2 separate regions of the Homo sapiens genome follow, and region 2 is linked to region 1. The links come from fine-mapping of genetic effects on gene expression. Tissue or cell type: whole blood. Region 1 holds a variant in brackets; the other region holds the start of a gene. All regions are shown on one strand. Distances are from middle to middle.

The links. PIP is the estimated chance that this variant, and not a neighbour inherited with it, causes the effect.
Region 2: it holds the start of SYTL2, and the variant in region 1 is fine-mapped to the expression of SYTL2 in whole blood (TOPMed, PIP above 0.99).

Annotation. Positions count from the first base shown.
Region 1 is chr11:85,718,179-85,726,284 of GRCh38, reverse strand. It overlaps SYTL2 (synaptotagmin like 2), which reads left to right. Exons shown (of 20, transcript NM_206927.4): 8 at 1-2,253; 9 at 5,326-5,427; 10 at 7,442-7,495. Among named protein-coding and RNA genes, the nearest start is that of CCDC89, 36 kb to the right of the region's middle. The variant G/A (reference allele first, on the strand shown) is at 3,602.
Region 2 is chr11:85,806,095-85,814,200 of GRCh38, reverse strand. It overlaps SYTL2 (synaptotagmin like 2), which reads left to right and starts at 3,060. Exons shown (of 20, transcript NM_206927.4): 1 at 3,060-3,247. RefSeq lists a silencer at 2,922-3,101.

The sequences.
Region 1 (8,106 bases):
ACATTAAATTATCAGGTAAAAATACCCATGAAGCAGAGGTGCTTCTAAGCCCAAAAAAAGTTATGGCAAGAGAGGAAATGGAGAAATTAAATTCAAAGGGCATACTCCAGGTGCTACCAGATGAAATCACATTTCCTTTGAGTCCACTTAGAAAGTATACTTATCAGTTGCCAGGAAATGAGTCATCAAAGGAAAATGTGGAAAAGAATACGGAAGGGATTGTTACTCCAGTGTTTAAGGAAGAAAAGGATTACTCAGAACAAGAGATTCAAGAATCCATAATAAAAACCAATGTTTTGTCTAAAGACTGCAAAGACACTTTTAATGACAGCTTGCAGAAACTGCTTTCAGAAACCTCAACACCAGCAATTCAACCCTCTGGTGGAAAAGTTCATGGAAAACAAGTGCTTGAACCAAGTGTTTCTGAAAATAGGACATGGCCTCAAAAAACAGATTTTGCTGATACTGAGGAAGAAGTCAAAGGACCTGAGAAGATCATTAATGAGCATGTTGACAAAACAGTAGTTCATCCAAAGGTTAAACGGAACTCTTTGACTGCTAGTCTAGACAAACTCCTGAAGGAAGCAACTGGAACTTCACCCTCTCCCTTGCAAGCCAAGTTGGCGCCTGTTATCACTGGAACCAACTCTAAGCTGGAAGAGGGGAGATTTTTTGGAAAAGGGATAGAACAGAGTCACAATACTTCAGCTGATAAGAGAGAAATACTAGCTCCTTTTCCAGTGAGAGATGAAACTTTTGGAAATACAGCTCTCCTCAAGAAAGCTGAAAGTGGTGAGTGCCAGCTAAGCACACAGAATTTGATTCAGATGGCTGCAGAAGATTCTCATCCATTGGATCCAACTTCCCAGCTTTCCAGAAAGGGTTCTTTTGGGGATGTGGCCAGCCCTCCCCAAGATATGCTTTTTCCCCAGGATGCTCATCTTGTTCCCCAGGCTAGGGTACACCCTTCTCAAACGGAAATTTCGGAGACTGTAGAGAAAGTCATTCTTCCACCCAGACCTGTATTGAATGATGTAAGTGCTGCATTACAGAAGCTGTGTGGAGAAGTATGGTTAAGTTATCCAGCTGGAAGGGAAGTAGGTCCTGGAGAAGTGAACCCAGAATTTCCTGAAGCAGTACAGCCAGTATGTAGCCCCCTAAATCCTCCAGGAGTGATATCACCATGGGCTACGATGGACACCATAGTTCCAGACAGGAAGGATTTTTATTCCTCCAATGTAGTTCCTGATAAAACTCATGAAGTTGGATCTTATTTAGCTGCCCAAATGTCTCCATCAGACCAGACGCTTAGCTCATTTGCTTCCATTGTTGCTCAATATGGCAAAGGCCTCCCTCAGGAAGTGGAAGAAATTGTGAGGGAAACAATTGTTCAACCCAAATCAGAGTTCCTCGAATTCAGTGCTGGCTTAGAAAAACTACTGAAGGAAGAAACTGAAACCTTCCCCTCAAAATATGAAAGTGATACAGGGAATCTTTCTCCATCAAAGTTAATAGGTAGTACAGAGGAGCCCAGGCGAGCCACTTCTGAATGCCATCCTGAGGAATTAAAAGAAACAGTAGAAAAGGCCGAGGCTCCGTTAATAACTGAGAGTGCTTTTGATGCTGGTTTTGAGAAACTTCTTAAAGAAATAACTGAAGCTCCTCCTTATCAGCCCCAGGTGTCAGTGAGAGAAGAAACTCACGAGAAGGAGTCCTCACAGTCAGAGCAGACCAGGTTCTTGGGGACAGTGCCCCATTTTTACAGGGCAGCCTCACAGACCTCTGAAATGAAGGATAAAAGTAATGGTTTGGAATCTCAAGTCAACCAATGTGATAAAATGTTGGGAGGAGACGCACTTGTGACTGATTTATTGGTAGATTTTTGTGGTTCCAGAAGTGGAGTTGAGATCCCTAGAACCCCACAACTTTATGTGGCTCATGAAATAGGGACCATTAAAACTGTAACCCCCCCAGAGGACAGGGACAGTGAAAGTGGGGTTGCAGGGGGACAAGGGACTCTTCAGGAACCTGGCTTTGGAGAGGCTTCTGAAGCAATTAGTGTGTCCAGAAATAGGCAACCCATTCCTCTCCTGATGAACAAAGAAAACTCTACAAAAACAAGTAAAGTTGAATTGACTCTAGCATCGCCATATATGAAACAAGAGAAAGAGGAAGAAAAAGAAGGTTTCTCTGAGTCTGATTTTTCAGATGGAAACACCAGTTCTAATGCAGAGAGCTGGAGAAATCCTTCCAGTGAGCATTTAAAATTTTTTAACTCACAGTGAGTCTGCTTTATGGAATGCTGATGTAAAGGATGATTTTTTTTAATTGGGATTAATTTGATATTCTTAAATGATGTTAAATTCTTCTTACCACTTCTGTGTTCCTGAGACTTTCTTAATTAAAAAAATTATTTATATTTTTTAATCAAATGCATTACATAATTCTTAAATGATGTTAAATTCTTCTTACCACTTCTGTGTTCCTGAGACTTTCTTAATTAAAAAAATTATTTATATTTTTTAATCAAATGCATTACGTAAAACAGCTTTCCTATAAGGCTGTTTCAGAGTCTGAGTTGACTTCTCTTTAATCTACCTATAGAACTTTTAGGTTTCAAAAAATACTTTTTAAATGACTTTTTGGGTTTGGAAAGTACCTTTAATACATTTAAGCTAGTTTTCCTCCTGGAAATATTTAGAATTTCTTCCTTAATTGGCAACCTTTATAGAAGTCTGGTAAGATTTGTCGCAAAGATGTGCCACAGATGGACACAAATTTCCCATTCGGGAGCAATATCTTACCACAGTGGTGGCTAAATGCTAGGGACAAAATACAAGGCCGGAACTTTCCTTCCCTCAGATACCTTGTGCTGTGGTGTTTTGTTGCCACTTTCTCCCTCTCATTTTCAATTATATGCACAATCTTCCCTTTCTAGAGTATGACTTTGGCCAGATGACTCACCTGATGCCACCTAAGGGCATTGCCTGGCCAGGTACATTTCTCTGGCTCCAGCCTTGGCTAAGTTGATGACCTGAGTCGATCTCCACATTCATCTACATGAACGTGGGGGCGTTGGTTTTGGCGGCCAGGCTGTAAAATGTAGGGCTTGTCTCAGTTTGCTATTTAATCAACATGTGGACATTTTAGCAGAGAAACCCCAGAGCAAATAGGAATGAGAAGCTACCTGATTAAAATGATGAAATGATAGAGAATGTTTTTTGGCTGGGACATTTTAACCAAAGTTGCACAACTGATGCTGATTGCCTTCCTTGTAGTTTAGTAGAATTTGTCATTTGTTTAGCTCCTTTTCGTTCCAGTGAAAATAGATAAGCTTTACTGAGTGGCTTACTTTGAGGTGTGGACTCCTTTGTAAGTAGCTATAGGGTCTCTTCTTGAACACTGACCAAAGAATCCACCTTTAATCCTATTCAGTTAAGTTGAAGCCCCTCTAAAAAATTTTGTTGTTAATAAAAAAAAGAAAGAAATTGAAATATCAATCTCTAAAACCATACATATTTATTTATAAATCTCTAATTAAATCTCTAAATTTATTTAATCTCTAAAGTAAATAAATTTAATTAATTAATAATTAATTAAT[G/A]TAATGGCAAGAATAAAGCCAGCATGTTAAACTTGTTGAGGTAGGCTCTTACTAAACTGCCCATGAGTTGCTAGTGTAAACTGACCCACAGGAGAAGGAGCGCTTGCAAATTTGCAATTATGTTAGAGACTATCATCTAATGTGTATCCCAGCATAACTGACTGAATAGTAAAAAGCCTATCTAAAAAGGCAGCGTTAAATAATCACCTAGGCTGGGCACGGTGGCTCACGCCTGTAATCCCAGCACTTTGGGAGGCCAAGGCGGGCAGATCATGAGGTGAGGATATCGAGACCATCCTGGCTAACATGGTGAAACCCCATCTCTACTAAAAAATACAATAAAGTAGCCGGGCGTGGTGGTGGCTGTAGTCCCAGCTACTCGGGAGGCTGAGGCAGCAGAATGGTGTGAACCCTGAGGCGGAGCTTGCAGTGAGTCGAGATCACGCCACTGCACTCCAGCCTGGGCTACAGAGCAAGACTTCATCTCAAAAAAAAAAAAAAAAAAAAAAAAAATCACCTAAACAGAGCCCAGAGAAGACATTTTAGAATAACAAGCCAATTAAGAAGTATCAAATGGTATAGTCATGATTTTAATTTAGGTTTATATACTCTAACCTAAATTATTATTTTAAAGCAAACTGCAGTGGGGGTGGGGTGAAAAATGAAGAGAAACCTACTATAAGGGTACTGTAATTTTGGGGAGCAAGCTAACACATTTGACTTGCGGCTGAGCTCTTAACTAAGCAATACCTCAGTATGCTCCTTTGGGAAAAATTAAAGGTTCAGTAGTCAAATACTTTTGGAAATGCTGGGCCATTATGCACAGAGAAGGTCCGCAGTAAGGAACATTTTAAATTTGAACAGAGAACATCCAAATCTAATTCATCTTAGAATCCATTTGCTATGGAATGTACTAGGCAGAACTGGAATGTATTTCAGGAAATTATTGTCTAGAGAAGTGGTTCTTAAATTAATTGATTCCTTAATCGAATCACTCATTGATTCAGCAAATATTTTGAAGTGTTTATTTCCAGCCACTGTTCTAGGCACTGAGAATACAGCAGTAATAAATGTCAGTACTTAAGCTTATTCATGATGCAGCCATTCCTTTTATAAAATAACGGCATTAGTAAATGATAGAGGCCTCCCTCCCGCAACTTTAAAATGCCTTACTAAAATAAAAATTTGACTATCCCATGTTATTTCCCAACATTTCATTGGAAATTATACTAGATCATGAAACCCAGAAAGTCTACAACCTTTGATCTGGAGAATGCACTCATATGTGTACCCAATTATACACAGATGTTAAACATCTGAATCCTGCCTTCCACGGTTTTGAATTAATTTTATTAATGCTCCTAGAAGTATTTCATGGCTGTCTTCAAAAGCTAGAATGTTAAATGGGAAGAGTCAATGTCTGGCATAGGACAAATCATATGTCTAAAATAGGAGTAAACAACTAAGAGATCACATTTCTATTAATGTGGTAATCTTGTTTTTGTAGGGTTTACGTTTGCAAATATTTCTTGACCAGGAAAATTATGTTTAAGAGCATATTAATAGTGGAGAAATTTTATTTTCTTCTGTGAAATAAGTGCTTCTTAAAGTAGAAACTCATAGCATAATGTCTCTTTTCAGCCTACCATTTCTATGTCCATATGTTAGAGGATTTTTTTTTTTTTTGGTATTGTGCAGTGTTCATCGATTTTGTTTTATAACAGGTTCAGAAGAAGAACCCAGTCCTGTTTTGAAAACTTTGGAAAGGAGTGCCGCTAGGAAAATGCCTTCCAAAAGTCTAGAAGACATTTCATCAGATTCATCAAGTGAGAATAAAGTTCGCCTCACTGTTCATGCCCCATCTAAGCTTAAAAATGCCTATGTGCTCTCCTGTAGCCTCACTGCGTGCTGTTGTGCACTGCACCCTCTAATGGGGGCAGTTAACAGATGAAAATAACCTCTCCAAAGTGCGCTGAAGAGGCTCAACCTAAAGTGGCTGGAACTTTGCTTATAAAATAATATATTACATTTGGTTACTAAAACACTAGGTTTCCTTTAATTGAAGAATCCCAGTTTGAGTGTTTCTCAAGTACAGTGAGTTTCAAAGGATAGTGGTAGCTAGTAGTATTAGTGAAAATAGTCATAACTAGCATTTATTGAATATTATTTGCCAAAACGTGCCTAACAATTTTACATGTATTATCTCATTTAACCAGCACAAGCAACCCTATGAGAGGTGAATTATTGTTATCCAAATTTAAAGATGAGGAAAATGAAGCTCAGAAATGTGAAATGACCTTTTTAGTATTACACGGAAGATCTGGGACTCAAAATTAACAGGCTATTATCAAGAACATTTATGAAGGGACCACATTATATATGACAGCGTTGGATGTCCAGTGAATTTTGCATGATACGGAGTTGAATTAGTCCCTGGCTTCAAGGACTTTCCTTTCTCTTTTATCCCTTCTATTCTGTTCACACTTTTCTTCTAGATACTGGAACTATAAGCCCAAAACTACTTAACATGAAAGACTTTAGGTACACGATTCCCCACTGGCAGCTGCTTTAATGGTGAAGGATTTCTTGAGTACTAGCAGAAAACATAATATATAAAGAGAGTTGTGTGCTAGACAAATGGACTAAGAAACCATGATTTCTTGGGGTTTTGTTCTTGCTATTTTCAAGCTAAAATGCACCCCTGGGATTGCAGATGGTCATAAGAAAAATTATCAAGTGAAAAGTTAACCACTGCCAAACTCATATGATTGAAAATTGGCCATTGTTATGTTTAGAATATTTTTTGTGCATTTGCAATTAAGAATAAAAAGTCAGAATTTAAAAATGAAAAAAAGAAAAGAAAAAGCCACTTCACCAAACATTTCCTAAAATTCACAGATTCCCAGGGGTTTGAAGACAGTATTCCCAATTTGGAATGTAGTCCTGACTATCCCAAGGATCTTGGAATCTCAGGGTTAGAAGGGATCTTAAAAATCACCCATTTTAACCTCCCCTCAATGCAGGAATTCTCTCTAAAGCCTCCTCAACAGGCGGCCAACCCCCATATCCGCCTGAATGCTTCCAGAGAAGGCGAGTCGAATCCTTTGTTGGACAGCCCTGATTGTTTTTCCTGATGTTGGTGATGGGCCTTGAGAAAAAGAAAAAAAGAAAAAAAAAATCTCAGAACAATTGGCCCATTTAGCAAACCTCTTGCCTGTGAAACATGGGGCTATTTCCATGGTGCAGCTTTAAAGTACTCAGGAATGTATAGGGTTAAAAAAAAATCACCATCAGCTGACGGGTATTCCTGCACGCTCCCTTCCAAATACTGATACCCACTCTCACACTAGCCTGCCAAGATTCCACTTAGCAGCTGGTCCCCAGTTACATCTCTTCAGTTGACTTCCCAAGCAAGCCTCCCAGAGGCATATGTGAATGATGATGCACACACACAAATATTTGTTAATGACCATGGGTTTGGGAAGGTGTTAGTCATGGCTAGCATCATACCCTTTACAGAAGAATAGAGAGGCTGTTGCAGCCCCGTGCTTTCTCCTGCTGCTGGCCGATTGCTTGCTCTGAACTAACCCTCTAACCCTTGGGAGTCTGTGTGCAGCAGTGATGTGAGCTGCATCCGGGCTGAAATGGGAGCTCCCGCTATGGCACTGGCTCAAGGAGCTAATCTAAAGAGAAAGTATTTTGGGGAAGACATCTTGGTTGCACCCCTCATTGCATCTTGACTAATTGCTTCCAACTCCGGGGGCTTCCAGGGACAATCTCATTGTTCTTTTCTCTCCAAGGGTCAGCCATGTTAACCATTTGTTAATTTCTTCTGAACAGATCAAGCAAAAGTAGATAATCAGCCAGAAGAATTAGTGCGTAGTGCTGAAGATGGTAAATATCTTTATGTATTTGCGTGTCTGTCTTTGTATTAACTTCTGGGGTGATTTGGGCAGTCTCCGGGACGCAGCTGTTGGGTAAACAGAAGAACGTCATTTGCCACTATGTGGTGAATAGTGCCTAAGTTACTATAAAACAGTTCTGATTTGGTACATTTAATATAGTTTGTATTCTTAAGGCTTCTTCTGGTGATACTGTCATGAGGATCTCATCAGAGACCCTTGTGAAGCAAGGGTTTCTATAAATAGAAAATTGTATTTCTTTGGATGTGAGCTGATTTTTGCTACTCTGACTTGCAGAACTCTTTGTAAAGGCAGGAAGAGTGGAGTGAATTCCTGGGTTAAGTTATTCTTCTGTTTGATTCTCAAGTCTCAGCATTTAGATCTCTCTGGGCACAACTGGTAAAATCTTAAATTCAAAGGAAAGAGTCCCAGAACAAGGGTGGGAAATCGTGCCTCTGCTTATATAAATAACTAAATATAGACAGAGGGTGAAGTTGATTCTGAATATAATGGAGCCAGAAGATCTTGAAGCTTGTCAGTGGATCAGGTATTACTTGGCTCTGTTATAAGATGAATAGTATAGTGGTGCCTTGGTTGAGGGAG
Region 2 (8,106 bases), 88 kb before region 1:
GATTATTCTTTCCAAAAACTATAATAACTCTCTTCCAACCATTATCACACCATTAGCTAACAGGAATTGAGATCTTACCTTGGGCCAGGCAATATGCTATATGTGTTATGTGTTATCTCCTTGGCATGGGGCAGGTAATATGACTACTTCTATTTTATAGAAGAACAATCGCTAACAGAAGTTAAGTGACTTAGGCTGGGTGCAGTGGCTCACGCCCGTAATCCCAACACTTAGAGATGCTGAGGCGGGCAGATCGCTTCAGCTCAAGAGGTCAACATTGCGAAACCACGTCTCTACTAAGAATACAATAATTAACTGGGCGTGGTGGTGTGTGCTTGTAGTCCCAGCTACCTGGAAGGCTGAGGTGGGAGGATGGCTTGAGCCTGGGAGGTTGAGGCTGCAGTGCGCTGTGTTTGTGCCACTGCCTGGGCAACAAAGTGAGACCCTGCCAAAAAAGGAAGGAAGGAAGGAAGGAAGGAAGGAAAGGAGGGAGGGAGGGAGGGAGGGAGGAGACTTGTCTAAAGTCACCCAGAGAAAGAAGGAAATTAAGTGACTTGTCCAAAGTCAACCAGCGAGTTCTGTGGTAGAGCCAGGAGATACACCAAAGTCTGTGCATTTAACCTTACACCATGCTATCCCTACCCTCTTGCCTTCCCCTTCAATGTCAACCTAGAATTCTCTAAAGTTTAAGTGTCACTTATATGTAAACCATTTTGAAGGGTTCCTATGGGATAAGTGGAACAGGCCATTGCTGACTTGATATGATCGTGTTAACCAAGGCTTTTTCAGTGCACTGTATGTGCAAGGCATCATGCTAAACATGTGCATCTTCTTTTAATCTTCACAGTAGGCCTGAGAGAGCAGTGCAATTATTTTCTCTCTAACAAATGAGCAAACTGAAGCACAGGGAGGTTGAGTAATTGGTCTAAGGTCTTATTAGAAATTGACATTTCTAACAGCATTTGGATCTTGGCCAAGAGCTCTAAGATTTAGTCTCTGAGCCATACAAGATTTAGATGAATTGGGAGCCATAACAAGACCCTGCCTTAAAATTTCTCCCCCACTTGCCTGCCCCACAACCTGAAGCAAGGATCCTGTGACCCTCTCTAGCATTTAGGCATTGCTATTTGTTTCCAGGGGACGAGTGATACTGGGAACAGCATGTATTTAGTTCCTTCAAAGTCCTATGCCAGATGATACAAGGCACCCAGAGGTGAGCAAGACCCAGTGCCTGCCCTCCAGAGCTAGAGAGGGGCAGGAAGGGGATAACCAAGGCAGGTGCAATCAACAATAAAAGTGAAGTACCAAAAGCATCTGAGGTCACGCTACTCCCCTGCCTAAAATCATTCGCCAACAGCCATCACCAACAGGACACAGCCTGCTTCCCTCAGCAAGGCAGGTACAGCCACTCCTCCAACATCTGCCCACCTACCTCCTTAGCTTCATCTCTGCCTCATTGTCCCAAATCCTGTGCAATAGCCGTGACATATGACAGGCATCTCCATGTCTCTGCCTGCCTCTCTGTGCCCAGTCTTCTGTCACCCCTTCAATCTGACCTAATTTGTAGCCCTCCTTCAAGACCTACCTTGGTCACATTTGTATTTTTTATTGTCCCCCTCCTTCAGCGTAGTGACTCTACAACACTTTGTCAACCTATTATAACACTTACCCTAAAATGAAATTATTTACAAATTTGTTTCTTCAAAGGCAAGACCAGTGGCTTATTCCTCTTTTGCATGTGGCATGCTCACCCAGCACAGGGACACACCAGGCTCTCAAAGGCTGAAGGAAGCCAGAATACACATCTCTGCACAGTGCCAGGACTCTTGGGCCAGGCTAGCAGCCTGCACTGGGCACTAACTGAAGCCCTTGGGGATAAGTATTTGTAAGTTTGGGAGAAGGAAGACCTTTGGAAGAACCAAAGGCAGACCTGGGCCACCCTCAGTTAAATGGACAACACTAGTCCAGGAAATGATAAGGAAAAAGGCTTTAAGGTTCATCTCCTTCAGAGGTTTGCCTGGGCTGGCCCCATCATGGGTAACTTGTAAAAAATAGGTCGTGATACAATTTTTAAATTATTTTATTTATTTTTTTGAGACAGAGTCTTGCTCTGTCACCCAGGATGGGGTGCAGTGGTGCGATCTTGGCTCACGGCAGCCTCCACCTCTCGGGTTAAAGCGATTCTCCTGCCTCAGCTTCCTAAGTAGTTGGGACTACGGGCGCTCGCCACCACACCCAGCTAATTTTTCTTTTTTCTTTTCTAATTAGAACAGAGTTTTGCTATGTTGGCCGGGCTGGTCCCGAACTCCTGACCTCGGGTTATCCACCTGCCTCGGCCTCCCATAATGCTGGGATTACAGGTGTGAGCCACCGCGCCCGACCACAATATTGTATTTACTGTATTGCATTGTCTGCCTCCCTGCCACACAGCGTCTTCCAGGAGCTTACCAGTCCTCTGTGCATACCCCAGTAAGTAGCTCAGGCAGTGCATGACGCCCTCACCTTTCTCTAGGTATTATTGTATTTTAAAGCATCACTTCATTTAGTCCTCTCAACAACTTTTTTCCCCCCTTCTTCTATTTCACATGTGAGGAAATTGACGTCCCGAGGGTTAAAGCAAGTTACCCCATGACCGGGCTCCATACCCTCCGCGCCCCTTTCCCTGCGCGGTGGCTGTCCCTTCTCGGAGTGCAGAGGCTCCTAGTGCTCCACACTCTCGGGCTCCAAGGCCCCCTAACGCGCCGTGATAAAAATAATAATAACAATAACAACAGTGCTGCTTTATTTGCACAGAAAACAGGTTGTTTCGGGGCAAGGTACACTTGAGAAGGAGGCTAGGAACCGGAGAGAAGCAGCAGGCGGGGGCGGAGGGCGAAGGGAGGGAAGGGGAGAGGGCAGGGGCTGGCAGGCGCTGTGTGCCGGGCGAGGAGGCCGGGGCGGGCCGGGGCGGGGAGCGGGCGAAGCGCCATTGGCCCGAGCACCCGGGACCGGCCCCACCGCACCGCCCGCCGGGGGCGGGGGTAGCGGGGAGGGACTCGCGCACGCCGCTCTGCGTTGACAGTGCCGGGCGACACCCGGGCCGTGCCGCCAGCGTCCGTCGGGAGAGTGAAGGCTCGCAACGCCTTGCCCGGGGGAAGGTAACGCGCCGCGCCCGGGGCTGCGCGGTTTGCACCGCCAGGCCGAGGGCTGGGGGCCAGAAGACAAGAGAGACGGCGAGGCGCGCTCCCTGCCCGGCAGCGACTCGGAGGTGCGCACTCGGGTTCCAGTCTCTACTTGGCCCACTCGCTGTGTTACCTCGGGCAACTTTGTTTCCCTCTCTTGGTCTCTGCTTCCTCCTCTGTTAAGTGAGGGAGGTGGTGTAGAATGTTGTTCCTTAGTCTAACCAGTTCTAAAATGGGAACTGCGTTTTGGCACGGGGAAAGCTCCTTTCCTCAGTTTCCCACCTACTCCAGAGCCACCTCCGCTGCCCAGGCGGCCAGGAAGCTGGGATGCCCGGGTAGGCGAGGGTTCTGCTGAGCTATCGCGTTTTCTAGGGCTTTCAGGGACTGACCTGGGCTTGGGGCTGGGTGCTGGGGAGACCTGGCTGCAGAGTAACTGCCCCCAGATTGCTCAGGTGCAGAAAGGTAGGAGCGTCAGCACCTGTTTACAGGTGGGGTGTTGGGAAGGGCCGGCCAGGGGATGATGATTTCTCCTTTGAAAATAAGACGTGTTTTGGAATTCTCTTCCATACCCACACCTCGTCCCACGGCGAGCTATAAACTACACGAGTGGGCTTTATCATCCTTTGAAGTGGAAAAGCGACTGTTTTTAGCGTCTAAGACACAGGGCTCCACCAGCATATAGGAAGTGGGTCTCTCTTTCTCTGCACCCATCCTGCCGCGTCTTCCCTTTCTTTCCTCCTCTCTTTATAAATCCCCTTTGACCTTGAGGGGCTCCACTTCCTGCCTTAATGAAAAGTTCTTCTTTTCATTTAGTGCTGGTTTGTGACCAGCAGCCTCCAGGGCTTTGGGCGCAGGGTTGAGATAGAAGCCTAGATAAGAACAGGCTATGAATCACCCTGTCAGCCCCCTGAGCCACACAGCCCGGCAGGGATGTGCAGAGGAAGCCCGGTGGGGCTTCAGACAGATAGACCCTGGAAGGTGGGGTGGATGCAAACTGCCATCCAGCTTCCCGTCCCCTTGTTGGCAGCCATTCCCCACCAGGATGGTGACCCCTGCTGTCTGCTGGATGGAGCAGCCAGATAGAGTAGGATGATTGAAAGGAGCTGAGGACTTGGCTGGATTTCTATGGAAGGTCTCCAGCATTTCCCTTCCCTCACTTTCCTCCACCCCTGAAGTTCTGCCCCTTCTCACCCTTAGTGTGGTATCCAGGTGAAATCAGATTGCAGAACCCATCAAGAGCAGCTAGGAAGGAGAAGAGGTGTGGGGACGGCAGCAGGGCAATGTTGACTGCTGTTTAGTGGGCACTTACTATGGGCCAGACACTTCTTTGTATGTAATATATCCTTAATTCTCACAAAGCCACATGAGGGGTGATGTACTATACCCTATTTTATAGGTGAGAAACAGGCTCAGAAAGATTGCTTCCTTTAGTCACTTAGCTAGGAAGTAGCATAGCTGGAATTCAAATCCAATCTCTGATTCTAAAACCTGTGTTCTTTACACTGTCTTTGTGCTCCTTAAGTAAGAGCAAGCTGGAATAAGGAGAGCAAAAATGTCTAACATTGTGTTCTCACCAGGTGTCAGGCACTATGCAAAACATCTTAGAGCTATTATGTCATTTATGGTGCAGGAGTTTCCGTTATTCTGGAGGTAATCTGTGACTGCCTTAGCCTCTCAGCAGCAGTACTGTTCTAGAAGGCCTACCCTAATCCTGCCCAGCTGCTAGTGCGTGGGTGGGGCAGGGCCCTGTTTGCTTTATCCTAGAGGTGGTTTGGGGTCTAATGAAAGATTGATTGTCCACATCTGACCCGTTAGCCCTAACCGTTGGCTGGTGAATGATTCCACTGTCCCCTAAGAGGCCTTTTTCAGGTTTTGCTCAATAAACATTTGTGGAATGAATGAATTAGCACCTTGTGCAGAGTGGTCTGCTGCCTTGTAGAAATGTGAGGCAGCCTAGGGGAAGCCCAGGTTCCACCATCTTCAAAACCCAGATGCTAGTCTAGGTGTTTCTCCTCTTTGGGCAAGGGAGGTAGGGTGAACTGTGCCTGTATAGGCTTCCAGAGCTCCCTGGAAATATGTTTGCTTGTCACCTGTTTTACAAAGAATTTTTAAACATACAGTAGATGAAGAAAAATGTGGCTTTTTTTTTTTTTAAATTAAGAGGAAAACTTACTTGGTATTAATGAGGTTGTCACTCTCTCAAAAGTTGGGGGGATAAGATTATAATGTTTGTCTTAGGGCTTACCAAACTTTTCCATAGAAGATCCTGCAATGGAAAAGAAGACCAACACATGCTCCTGTGCTTATGCAATTTTTTTCATTTGATTTCATAATATATGGACTTTGATTTAAAAATATAAAGTTTTTTCTTCAAAATATCTGAATAAAACTGGTGTCCTGGCAGATTGTTATATATTCTTAGGGGCTTCGAGTACCCAGATGGAGAAGTAGGACCAAGGTTCTAGAGGGCTTAGACTACTGTTTGAATTTTCCACTCTCTGGTTCACAGTAATAGAGCTTCTCTAGTCCCTGGGGAGACATCCACTTTTTTCCCATTTTTCAGAATGAAGAATGTTTTAAAAATAAAAATATCCTTTATTTTCTTATTACCAAAACTAAACATATTCATTGTAGAAAAAAATATAAGATCCAGATTAACATTAATAATAATATCAGGCCGGGTGCAGTGGCTAATGCCTGGAATCCCAGCACTTTGGGAGGCCGAGGCAGGTGGATCACAAGGTCAGGAGTTCGAGACCAGCCTGGCCAATATAGTGAAACCCCATCTCTACTAAAAATACAAAACTTAGCTGCGCGTGGTGGCATGCGCCTGTAGTCCCAGCTGCTCAGGAGGCTAAGGCAGGAGAATCTCTTGAACCCGGGAGGCGGAGGTTGCAGTGAGCTGAGATCATGCCACTGTACTCCAGCCTGGGTGACAGAGCAAGACTCCATCTCAAATAATAATAATAATAATAATGATATAAATACATCTATACTCAAATAATTAAAGCAAAACTTGGGATATAGCGTTCCAAATCTTTTTCTTTGCATCTATATTAACAAATTTTAAAAACACACACACAAATACAGCCCTTTTGACTGAATTATTGTCAGAGCTAAGAGCCATCTCAGATTGTTTTTGACAGAATGTAGAGAAAAAATCATGAATAATTAAAAGCATCATGAAGGTTAATCTTGTTTGTGAGCCCCGAAGTTCACCCCTCATAATTTCCCTGTATTTATCTTGTGGGAGAGATGAGTGCTGGGCCATGGGGCTGCTGTTGAAAATGCAGGGTCAAGCTGTACTCTTGCTAAACATCTCAAATATAACAGAAAAGGTAGCTCTTTAGTGTTGCTGATGTGCAAAATTTGAGCAGAAAATTAAAAAACTAATTTGCACAGTAATTTGCAGAAAATTCAGGAGGGTCCTGGAGAAAGTCATTGCCCCAGCATTGCATTTTATTACCTGTGTGACCTTGGGCAAGACAGATGGCTTCTCTGAGCTGGTTTCCACTTTTATAAATTGATGATAATAAACAAATTCTATCCTCACTTACCAGAATCACTATAAGGATCAAGTGTCAGGTGTTATTGTTTGTTACTTGGATTGCATGCATGTGTGTATGCTATTAATATTTTAAAAATGTTTAAACATAGAGGCAATAAAACATTATCAGTCTTTATAAAATCCTGGAATCCAACTCTTGGTATTAGTAGGACTTAATCATGATGTAAATGCTCTATTGGGACTCAAGTTTTCTTCAAAGAATGTAGGTTTCCTTGGTGGCTAGTATCTCATTGATCCTCATCACAATCCTGAACAGAAGAGGACAGAAGATAGTCCCATTTTATAGAATGAAAGCAGGCTTGCCACTCAAGGGAATTGTTCAGTTACACAGGGAGTCTCAGAGCTCCTGGGAGCTGTCTTGACTTGCCCTAAGCAAGGCAGAGGCTTGCTAAGAGGAAGCAATGAGAGCCACTGGAAAGGCAGTGTACCCATGGGGGCATGTGAGTGCCAGTAGCCATTGCCTCAAGGACTGCTCTCAGGCATACGCCGTGCTCCTGGATGCTCTGAGGAAACAATGGGCCCTGCACTGGGAGGCAGGTGGCTTGGTTTCAACTTCTGCATCTGGCAAAGACAATCTGTGCAATCTGGGTTTAGTCACACTTTCTCCCTGAGCCTTGGTTTCCTTATAAAGTTAGAGAATTGGACCAGATGAGGGTCCTTCTTGTCTTAAAAGTCTGATTCTGGGTTGTTTTCTATTCATGGTTTCCCAAGTTGAAGTCTGGTAGAGAATTTCCACATCCAGATGAATGAGATATGAGAAAATGTTTCTACTTTCTGTTGCTTCAAGCTTTTGACGCCTCCTCCTGATTTTCTAAGGGCCTCCTCTATTGACTGCCTTCATGCAGAACACATGATCCACAGATCATTGAGAGGAGAGTGGTTTCTGCTTATTTATTTTTTATTATTAATCTATAACCTCTTGAGATTGTTAGGAAAACTGCTTTAAGGGAATTTTGGGGAAGGTAGGTTGACAGAAATACAGTATAATGAAAGCAGGTTTAAAAAATGGTAATAAAGCCATGTGTTTCACTAAGTATTTGCCTCTAAAGTCACTACATACAGTATTTTTGCCTAGTGCCCATTTGGGCACTTGGACCTGTGCTAGGACTTTTGCAGAATGTGGGAGAAGCACATGACCTCACTCTTAAGTGGCTCAGAACTGGAGAGGGGGAGAAAGAGAAGGAAAAAGGGAGCAAAGACATGTGCAGCTATGATTGGAATAGGATGGAGATGAAAAGAACAATTTAGGAAAAGATTGAGCCCCTGAGGGCTCAGACTTTGTGGTTTATTTCTGTATCCACATAGCCTGGCACTGTTCCTGGCACTCAATGGGAACTTAGTATAAGTAATTTAAATTAATTAATAAATGAACAAATA